2 separate regions of the Homo sapiens genome follow, and region 1 is linked to region 2. The links come from fine-mapping of genetic effects on gene expression. A gene starts in region 2. The other region holds a variant in brackets. All regions are shown on one strand. Distances are from middle to middle.

Region 1 (5,377 bases), 550 kb after region 2:
TTCTCTTATCTGATTTAAAAGACAATTTTATAGAACAATAATTATAAATCTGTGTTAATGACACACATGTATAAAGATGTAATTTGTATGACAATAACAGCAAAAAATGTGGGCAGGAGAAAAAGCTGTGTGAGAACAAAGTATTATATTATTGCAATTAAGATCATTGTAACCTCCAAACCAACTATGAAGAAAATAAATACAGTAAAAAAAAAAAAATGACAAGGGAACTTAAGTGTACAGTAGAAAAAATATATTTAATACAAAAGAGGGCACTAATAAAGAAAGAGAAGAACACACACACACAAAAAACCTATAGAAAACTAATAGGAAAATGGCAAACATAAATCCTACCATATCAGAAATTACATTAAATATAAATGGATTAAACATTACAAATAAAAGGCAGAGGTTATTAGAGTGGACTAAAAAAAATGGGTCCACTATATGTTGTGTACAAAGGACACAGTTTAGATTCAAATACACCTATAGGTTGAAAGTAAAAGGTGGAAAAAGGTATATTATGTTATGGAAGCAATAACCAAAAGAGAGCTGGGTTTAGAAACTGAGATCAGTCAAAATATGATTTAAGACAAAAATTGTTGTAAAGACAAAGAAGGACATTTTATAATAATAAGAGTTAATGCATCAAGAAGATATAACAATTATTAATATATATGCACAGAGCCCCAAAATACATGAAGCAAAAACTTACTGAATTGAAGGGATAAATAGACAATTCAACAATAATAACTGGAGAATTCAATATCCCATTTTCAATAATGGATTGAACAACTATACATAAAATCAACAAGGAAATAGAAGACTTAAACAACATTATAAACCAACTAAACTTAACCAAAGTCTATAGGACACTTTACCCAACAACAGCAGAATATGTGTTTGTTGTTCTCAAATGCACATGGAACATTCTCCAAGATAGACTATATGTTGGGCTATAAAACAAGTCTCAACAAATATGAAATGACTAAAATTACAGAAATGTCAAAAGTATGTTTTTAACCACAATGGAGTGAAATTATAGATCAATCACAGAAGGATATTTGGAAAATTCATCAAGCTACATACTTCTAAATCAAGCTACATACTTCTAAAACAATGGGTCAAAGAATAAATCATAGGGGAAATTACAAAATACTTTGAGATGAATAAAACTAAAAATATTACATATCAAAAACTTATGAGATGCAGGAAATCAATGCTTAGAGAAACTTTTATAGCTGTAAATGCCTAAATTAAAACAGAAAGATCTCAAATCAATAATCTAACCTCCTACCTTAAGAAACTATAGGCTGGGATTAGTGGGTCATTCTTGTAACCCTAACACTTTGAGAAGCTGAGGCAGGAGGATCACTTGACCTCAAGAGTTCAAGACCAGCAACGTAGTGAGACCTTGTTTCTACCAAAAAATTTAAAAAATTAGCCAGGTGTGGTGGCTCATGCCTGTAGTCCCAGCTACTTTGGTGGCTGAGGTAGGAGGATTGCTTGAACCTAGGAGATCAAGGCTGCAGTGAGCTGTGATTGTGCCACTGTACTCCAGCCTGAGTGACACAGTGAGACCCTGTCTTGAAAGAAAGAAAGAAAGAAAGAAAGAAAATAAACTATAAAAAGAAGAACTAAGTTCATTAAGAAACTATAAAAAGAAGAATAAACTAAGCTCAAAGCAAGCAAGAGGGAGAAAATAATAAAGATAAAAATGGAAAGAAATGAAGGAGAGAATACAAAAATAAGAGAAAAACAAATTTAAAGTTTGGTTATTTGAAAAGATCAGCAAAACTGACAAATGTTTAGGTAGACTGATAAAATGAAAAACGGAGAAGACTCAAAGGACCAAAATCAAGAATTAAAAGGGGATATTACTATTGACTTTAAAGGAATAAAAATGATTACAAGGGGGATAGTATGAACAATTGTATGGAAATAAATTAGACGAAATGGAAAAATTTCAAGAATCACACAGACTACCAAAACTGACTAGAGAAGACAGATGCGATAGATCAGATAGATAAAGGGAGGGTTCTTGCTTGCAATAGAATGCCAAATATGGAGTGAGGTGCTAAAGTGAAGAAAGTTATTATTTTGTAACTATCACAATTAAGACAGGCTCAGGCAAAAATTATCAATGGATGCTAAATCTCAGAGGAAATTTTGATGAGGAGTAAGATGTCTGCATGGCCTTCCACTGTATGCCAACACATAGTTATTAGTTAAAATCAAAAAAGATAACTATACAATAGAGAAATCTGGCAATCTGTTGGCAATATATTGGCCAGGTGATTAAAATTAACATTATCGATGAGAAGACATCAAGGGTCTCTAGATGTGATACCTTGAGGGTACAATGTCACTTGTGTAGTACCTAGTCTGGGAATGCATAATGTGAATCTAATCATAAGGAAATACCAAAAAACCCCAAGTGAGGAATTTGCTATTAAAAAAGAGAGGCTGTAATCCCAGGACTTTGGGAGGCTGAGGCAGGCGGATCATGAGGTCAGGAGTTTGAGACCAGCCTGACCAACATGGTGAAACCCCATCTCTACTAAAAATACAAATACAAAAAAATTAGCTGGGTGTGGTGGTGCATGCCAGCTACTCAGGAGGCTGAGGCAGAAGAATCGTTTGAACCCGGGAGGTGGAGATTGCAGTGAGCCGAGATTGTACCACTGCACTCCAGCCTGGGTGACAGAGCAAGACTCCACCTCAAGAAAAAAAAAAAAAAAGG[GA/A]AAGGGTGGGAAGACTGCATTCTTCAAATATATCCATGTCATAAAGGAGAAGATATAGCTGTGGAAATGTTACAGTTGAAGGGTACTAAAGAGATACAACAACTAAATGCAATACCTAATACTGGACTGGATCCTGACCTGGAGGGAAAATTATGGTTACAAAGGGTCAACCGACAAAATTGAAATGCAAACAGTAGGTTAGACAAGAATATTGTTATCAATGTAAAATTTACTTAAGTGATAACTATATTGTAGTTGTGTCAGAAATTATCCTAATTCTTTACACTGATGTATTTAAGATAAAGAGCCATGCCATATGCAACCTACCCTATAATAGTTCAAATAGAGACAGAAAGAGAGAGAGAGAGAGAACTAGCTAATATTAAAGCAAAATGGGCAAAACATTACAGAGAGGTATTCACAGTCACAGCCAACTTGTAGACCCCTCCCTGCAGGATATTTATAAGCGTGTTCTTTGTACTATTATTAATAATAATTTTTTCTTGCAGCTCTTTTGACATTATTTTCAAATAAAAAGTTAACTACACAGATTAATGAAAGGTCTGCAATACTTATTTCCCCTTGATGGTCCTTCAAGATGCTGAGGGTCTGTTCTGCATTTACCACATCCTCTTCTTTCCTTGTATAGGCCTCTCCTTTTATAGACCTGTGAGTTCTCAGAGTACATTATCATTTTCAACCTTGAATTCCCATTGAAACCCTTGAATTCCCATTGAATCATCTGCCAAAGACGACAGTTTATTTTTCTGTTGATCCAATCAAGAAAAGGAGAAAGCTTCCATGAATAATAAACAGATGGGGACTACAAGTTCCTGTGACTCTGCCGGGCTCTGCCCAATGTGTCTCTCCATTCTGGCTCCCAGGCTACAGGAGCACAGCCTCTGTCAGTCTTGCTATCTCTGGCAGAGGACAGCAACACAGAGCAGAAGGACCTCTTTAAAGCCTAGGTTTAATAATGACAACATTTTCATGCTTAAATCCTTCAAGGATAGGCTCGTTGGAGAGCCTACAGGGTTCTACTGATCCTTATGTGGCTTGGTTTCTGTGATTTTCTCCTGTCCAATTTCTAGTTTGGCCCCTCCTTTGCACTGAATGCTGCAACCTTCCTGAACTGCTAGCAGTTCCCCGAATTTACTCAATGCCTTTGCTCAAGCTTTTACACTTCCTGGAATCCCCTCCCACTCCTCGTTGACCTAACAAACTCCCACTCATTTGTTAAGACTCAAACCAATTGTTGCCTCTCCAAAGTCCAAGAACCACTTCTTAGGAATAGGACTCTCTCCCTGGTCCATAATCACCGTTTCCCACCCTCTTTGTGATAGGAATGATTACTACAAAGAAGACTTAGAAATCGTCAGCAGGGAAGCCCATAAAATTTGCATTTCCTAATTTTCTGTAATCTTGGTGGAGGACAGGAAGGAAGTGGCCAGGCCAAGGCCGTCTGGCAAGTTACCAGCAGGGCTGAGGCTGGAAGTCAAATACACATTCTCCTTTCTTTGTTGATACTACTGGGTACTCCCTGGGGCTTGACCCATTGCCCTTCTTATGTTCGAAAATGTCTTCTGGACTCTGTCAAACCCTAGACAACTCAATTTTGCAGGACCTTCTAGGGGGGCAATGTTGGAGGGCTTGTTGGCTCCTAGAGAGAGCACTGGAATGAGCATGTTTGGTTGGTCTTCAAGCTTATACCTAGTACCCAGAACCACATTTCAAGCTTCTGGGAGGTTGTGTGGTATAGGGGAAGGAGCATGACCTTTGGAGCCAGACAGCCTTGAGTTTGAGTTCCAGAACCGTCATTTACCAGCTTCTGAACCTCAGGAAAAGTAAACTTTCTAAACCTCGGTTTCCGTATGTGGATGATTTTTAAAATCAGGATTAAATGAGATAACCTCAATAAATCATTCCACATAAAGTCTGCCATACAGTAAGTGCTCAATAAGTATTAGTTGCCTTCCTCTGTCCCAAACTTCTCCTTCCTCTCTTCTGGGCTGGCAACTCTAATTTTAATGAATTAAGACAAGATCTCTTAGCTTAAGTTTCCCCAAGTGTAAAATAAGAGGGAAATGGTTGTATAACTCATATGACCCAGATCACGGCTTCTTTCTATTTTGCTTTTATCAATCTTCTCAATCAGGTCTGTGTACTGAGCACAAAGGCTGCCCATGGGTGTGACATGAACAACGGAGGTTTTGCTCTCAGAGGAAGTGGAGAGGGGTTGGGAGGTACCTGGGGAAATGCAAATTTCATGGCTAAGTAGGACTTCCCTAGGTCTGCTGACTTCCAAGATGCTTCTGAGGCATAATTCCAGTGATGATGTGAAGGTGTGGGGCCAGTTCTACCCCCACCAAAAAAGGCCACAATCAGTATATTCATTCCACAAACATTTTTAGCACTTGCTGTATGCCAGGCATTGTTAGATTGGGGAACCATGAAGGTAAATAGAGCATAATGAAACTCAATCAGGATATGGGTGGATTGACCTAAACCCAAGAGATTTGGTTTCTGGTTACGGCTTTTCAAAAACTAGCCATATGGTAAGTCCCTTAGAAGTTTTAGTCTCTAAGTATTAGCTTTCTTGGGGTGAAATGAAGGAGTTGAAAATATGACTTCTA
Region 2 (5,304 bases):
TAAAGGGTAAGTTAATGGCCCATCCCCCTTCCCTCCAAACTTTGTGGAGGATCCCCTTTTATTCCTTCTCTTCGAATCCTTGCTGCTGCCCTCCTCCCACTTCCCCTTCCAGCCCTTACCCCACCCTGCCCAGCGCTACCTTCAGTCGACAGTAGAGGAGGGTGAGGACAATTCCATACAGAAACAGGATGGCATCCAGGATATAGCAGAGCTGAGGCTCTCCCAGGGCCGCTGAGGGGATAGAGGATGCCCATGGGGTCGGGGGTATCAGGGAGGATCTGGTACTCAGAGGAGAGAAGGGAAGGGGCTCTGGGAGGTAGGACAGGGCCTGGAGGGGAGCCGTCTAAGGGAAGAAATTCTGTTTCTCTCTGGCCTTCCACTGCCCTTACCTTTCCCTCCTCCCACACCATAGGGTCAGGCTAGGATAGGAAGCTTGAGGGTTCTATTGAAATGGGACTCACACGGACTAATAATTGAGGCCTTCCCCCTCAGCCCCCAACCTTTTCTTTTTAGCACTGTGGGTTCTTCAGGCACCATTGAGCACTTTATCCACCTCAAGGGACCCATCTGAGTCCACTGGACTGAAACCAAAACCTCAGCCAAGATGGGTAGTGGGAGGGAGAGGTAGTGGCAAATTTCAGTGAAGAAACCACAGAAGTGTCTCTACTAAGTCCTGTGACCTGTGGCTGAGGGCTGGACAGGAAGGATGTGAGCTGGGGAAGGGAGAGAAGGCAATTACTCTATCATTGGTCATCTCCTAGCCTCAGCCTTGTTGCTTTCTGTCCCACCACAAGACACTTAAATATGTAAAAAAAAAAAAAAAAAAAAAAAGTGTGTCTGTTTTTCCCAGACCTTACAGATACCTTTGGCCCTGAACACAAGGCTGGGGGAATGACCACAGCTATATGGATTCCAGCTCCTGTTACTCTGCCCTATTACTCACTCTCTGGGTCTCTGAGAGGGGAAGTTTTGTGCAATTTAAAAAATCAAATCAAGTCTGGGCTCCAGAGACTGCTCTCACCCCGTATCAGAGGACCAGTAGGGAACATGTGACTAACGTCAGTCAATTGCTGACATCGGTCAAGTACTTTTTATTCTGCAACACTCTTTCACACACACGATATTGCACAAATCTTAAAACTACCCTGTGAGGGAAACATCATCATCGCCATTTTATGGGTGACGAAACCAAGGCTCGGAAAAGCTAAGTAACTCACTCAGAGCCACAGAGTTAAGTGACAGAGCTGGAACTCAAATGCAGGTTTTCTGCCTCTAAAGCCCATGCTTTCCTTTGTGCCTCAGCGGGCCTCCTCCCTCCTCATCCCACGGCAGCAGACCAGTGGCTAACTTAATACTTGCTCCCACCTTCTCAGCTAGGCTGCTGGAATTCCTCCCCAGTCATTCTCTTTCAATTTCCACAGTTTCCCTGAAGTTTACTGACCTCCTCCTCCCCAACACCCAGCTGCCACCAACACACACACACCAATCCAGCACAGACAACACAGAGTGAACGAGGAGTGAGAATTCTTAGATAGTGGCTGGAGCTGTAGAGCTTCAGAGACCTTCCCATTTCTGCCTCTATTTCTCAGCTGACGCTCAGGTCTCTGGAACTGGGGATCTCATGCTGCCCACCCTCATTATCAACTGCTGACAGAATGGAGCATTAACAATGACCCATAGAAACAGCAATCCCGTCTGTTTGTCTTGGCTATATCCTTGCCTTACTCCCAAGCACAAGAACAGAGTCCTACCTTCCTAAAGGGTTATCTCTCTCTCTCTCTCTCTCTCTATATATATATATATATGTGTGTGTGTGTGTGTGTGTGTGTGTGTGTGTGTATGTGTGTGTGTGTGTATATAGATAGATAGATAGAGATATATATGTAAAATCTTTTTTTTTTTTTTGAGACGGAGTCTCACTCTGTCCCCCAGGCTAGAGTGCAGTGGTGCGATCTTGGCTCACTGCAACCTCCACCTCCTGGGTTCAAGTGATTCTCCTGCCTCAGCCTTCTGAGTAGCTGGAATTATAGGCACCAAGGGTGCTTTGTATATTAAACCAGCTAGAGATCAGCTCCCAGCAGACAAGACCAAAGGCACCCCATGGGAAATGCTCATCATGAGAAATGAGGCTTTTCACCAGACCAGCTCTTCATGCCATACAACCAGACCCTTCCCCTGCCACTTTCTATCAACCCTGAAAAGAGAAAAGTCAGCCAGGCACAGTAGCACTTTGGGAGGCCGAGGTGGGAGAATTGCTTGAGGCCAGGAGTTCAAGACCGATGTGGCCAACATAGTAAGACCCTGTCTTTTTTTAATAATAATAATAGCTGGGTGCAGTGGCTCACACCAGTAATCCCAGCACTTTGGGAGGTCGAGGTGGGTGGATCACTTGAGTCAGGAGTTCAAGACTACCCTGGTCAACATGACGAAACCCGGTTTCTACCAAAAATACTTAACTTAGCCGGGCGTGGTGGCGGGCACCTGTAGTCCCAGCTACTCGGGAGCCTGAGGCAGGAGAATCGCTTGAACCCAGGAGGCAGAGGTTGCAGTGAGTAGAGATTGCGCCACTGCACTCCAGCCTGGGTGACAGAGCAAGACTCCATCTCCAAAATAATAATAATAATACGGAGAAAAGTCTGGAATGAAGTAAGAAGGCAACAAGAAAGGAGGGAACTATGAGTCTAGTGCCCTGGGTCGGGGCTGGAGAGGACTAGCCTCAGGGTCTCCCTATGCCCACCTACCCACTGTCAGCCTTCCTTCACCTGTGTTTGACTTGGCCCTCAGACCCAAGCTCTGGACTTCCACCCTGGAGCCAGCTCACGCTATCCCTCACCAAACCCTCTTACCTGCTTGTTCAACCAAAAGGAGTAAGAGCAAGACCACTGCTGGAATCATCTTGGGCTGGAGATCGGCCGTTCTGACAGCACTGTGCAGCTGTGCTCAGCGAGCAGTTCCCTGACCACAGAGTCCCCCTCTTCCTGCCACGCCTTCCCCCATGCTTTGGCCCCTTCCCCTTCCTGCACAAGAGACCGGGCGGCTCCCGGAAGGGCCAACTAAGGGAGTTGGGAGATCTGGGCTCTTAAGCGTCAGCCCTTCAATGACCAACTCCTAACCCACAGAATGAGGAGACTTTCACGCTCAGGAAAGGCTGTCTACATCTGCCATTTTCCACTCCACCTGGTTCAGATTTTTTTTTTTTTTTTTTTTTTTGAGACGGACTCTTGCTTTGTTGCCCAGGCTGGAGTGCAATGGCGCCATCTCGGCTCACCGCAACCTCCGCCTCCCAGGTTCAAGCGATTCTCTCAGCCTCCCGAGTAGCTGGCATTACAGGCATGCACCACCACGCCCGGCTAATTTTGTATTTTTAGTAGAGATGGGGTTTCTCCATGTTGATCAGGCTGGTCTTGAACTCCTGATCTCAGGTGATCCATCCGCCTCGGCCTCCCAAAGTGCTGGGATTACAGGCGTGAGGCACTGCGCCCGGCTGGTTCAGAGATTTATCTGTGTGAAACTGCCCGTCAACATTCCCTCAGACCCCACTATAGCCCTTTCCCTCCCAACTTTACCCCAGGTCTTGATTTGAGTGGTTTACCAAGTTATGTGGGCACTGAGAAGGTTTGGGCAAGGAGGGAACTGAGGCGAAAGAGGAAATGGGGAATAGAGAAGTGGAAAGGACAAGAGTCAGAGAAGGGGGTGGAGACGAGCAGGAAAAATTGCTAAGACCTGACTGAATCTAACAGGAATGGAGGGTTAATGAACATTCTTAGGTTTACAGTCCGAGTGAAGGACACTAAGATACTGAGACACTAAGATACCAGAAGTTTAGGCCTAGGGGCCGCAAGACGGCTAATTTATTATAATTTCTCCTTTTTTAGTACATGCACAGAAAGCCTGACAGCCAAGTGTACATGAACATACACACACACACACACACACACACACACACAGAGGCCAATTTCCAGTGAGGAACAGGCTCCACAGAAGAAGCTGATAGGCAGGGGGGATCAAACGCTGCTCCCCTGCTCACCGATCTACTTCTCCAAATACAATATCTTGGGTACCTAGGTGAGAGGATGGAGGAAAAAAGTGATGTTACTTATCTTCCTGTTGTGAGGCAAAACAAACAAAAAAAGTGGTGTTACCCAAGATCCAGAACCCATTACTGTGCTCAAAAGATTGAGGACCCGAGTCCATGCCATGGCCTATGGTGAACAGGAAGTGTTCTCCTTCTGTCCCCAGTGGGCGTCCCGAACTCCTTTGTCTAGGATACCTCTACTACACAATAGGCCTCGTACCTATGATGGCAACGACATCTGCCAACATGTGTCCCTTAGACATCTTGTCCAAACCAGCCTAGGGAGATTGAGATGGCAACAATGTTAGTTAAGACTTGCAAGGTGGGAGGAGAAAGAAGAGTTCATAAAAACCTCAACCAAGGTCAGGTTTAATTCATTGGAGTTATAGTTACTGGGATTGATTCTTACCAGATGGGCAAAACCAGGAGCCTTGATCTTGCATCGATAAGGGCGGCTGCTGCCATCAGACACCAGGTACACCCCAAACTCTCCCTGTTCAAGGAAGAAGGTTGGGTGTCTGTATTAACATGAAGAGTATTTTTCTCTGCCAACAAAACCTCTATTCATTCTGTTTTCTCTCTCATTGATGAATGAGCTATTTGTTAAACATCTATCTTTAGCTACCTACTCTACATATGGTCTTTTCCTTCCCCTCCTCTCCTTACCTTGGGAGCCTCAATGGCAGTATATGTGGCTCCTGGAGGAACTTGGTAGCCCTCAGTATACAACTTAAAGTGATGAATCAGTGACTCCATGGAAGTCTGAAGAGAGGAAACAGGGAGCATCAATAAACCATATCCAAACTCTGTCTCCTAGGCCTCCCCCAGCACAGAAAATAATCTCTACCCTCAGGGAGACTAAAGCCACATGTCAGTCAGTAAGCAGAGAGGATACAGAATAAAACAGGAGAGCTATGGGAGATTAAGAATCTCTTATATGGCCGGGTGCGGTGACTCACGCTTGTAATTCCAGCACTTTGGGAGGCTGAGGTGGGCAGATCAAGAGGTCAGGTGTTCAAGACCAGCCTGGCCAACAGAGTGAAACCCCGTCTCTACTAAAAATACAAAAATTAGCTGGGCGTGGTGGTGGGTGCCTGTAATCCCAGCTACTCGGGAGACTAAGGCAGGAGAATCGCTTGAACCCAGGAGACAGTGGTTGCAGAGAGCCAAGATCATGCCACTGTACTCCAGCCTGGTGAAAGAGCGTGACACCGTCTCAAAAAAAATAA

The links.
Region 1: its variant is fine-mapped to the expression of FCER1G in monocytes (Schmiedel 2018, PIP 0.95).

Annotation. Positions count from the first base shown.
Region 1 is chr1:160,664,508-160,669,884 of GRCh38, reverse strand. No RefSeq gene overlaps it. Among named protein-coding and RNA genes, the nearest start is that of SLAMF1, 20 kb to the right of the region's middle. RefSeq lists enhancers at 3,830-4,391, 4,405-4,464. The variant GA/A (reference allele first, on the strand shown) is at 2,744.
Region 2 is chr1:161,212,913-161,218,216 of GRCh38, reverse strand. FCER1G (Fc epsilon receptor Ig) reads right to left here and starts at 2,922. Exons shown (of 5, transcript NM_004106.2): 1 at 2,847-2,922; 2 at 140-231. The coding sequence starts at 2,895. It overlaps NDUFS2 (NADH:ubiquinone oxidoreductase core subunit S2), which reads right to left. Exons shown (of 14, transcript NM_001377299.1): 11 at 4,742-4,837; 12 at 4,485-4,568; 13 at 4,296-4,353; 14 at 3,822-4,061. The coding sequence ends at 4,024. RefSeq lists an enhancer at 15-1,001.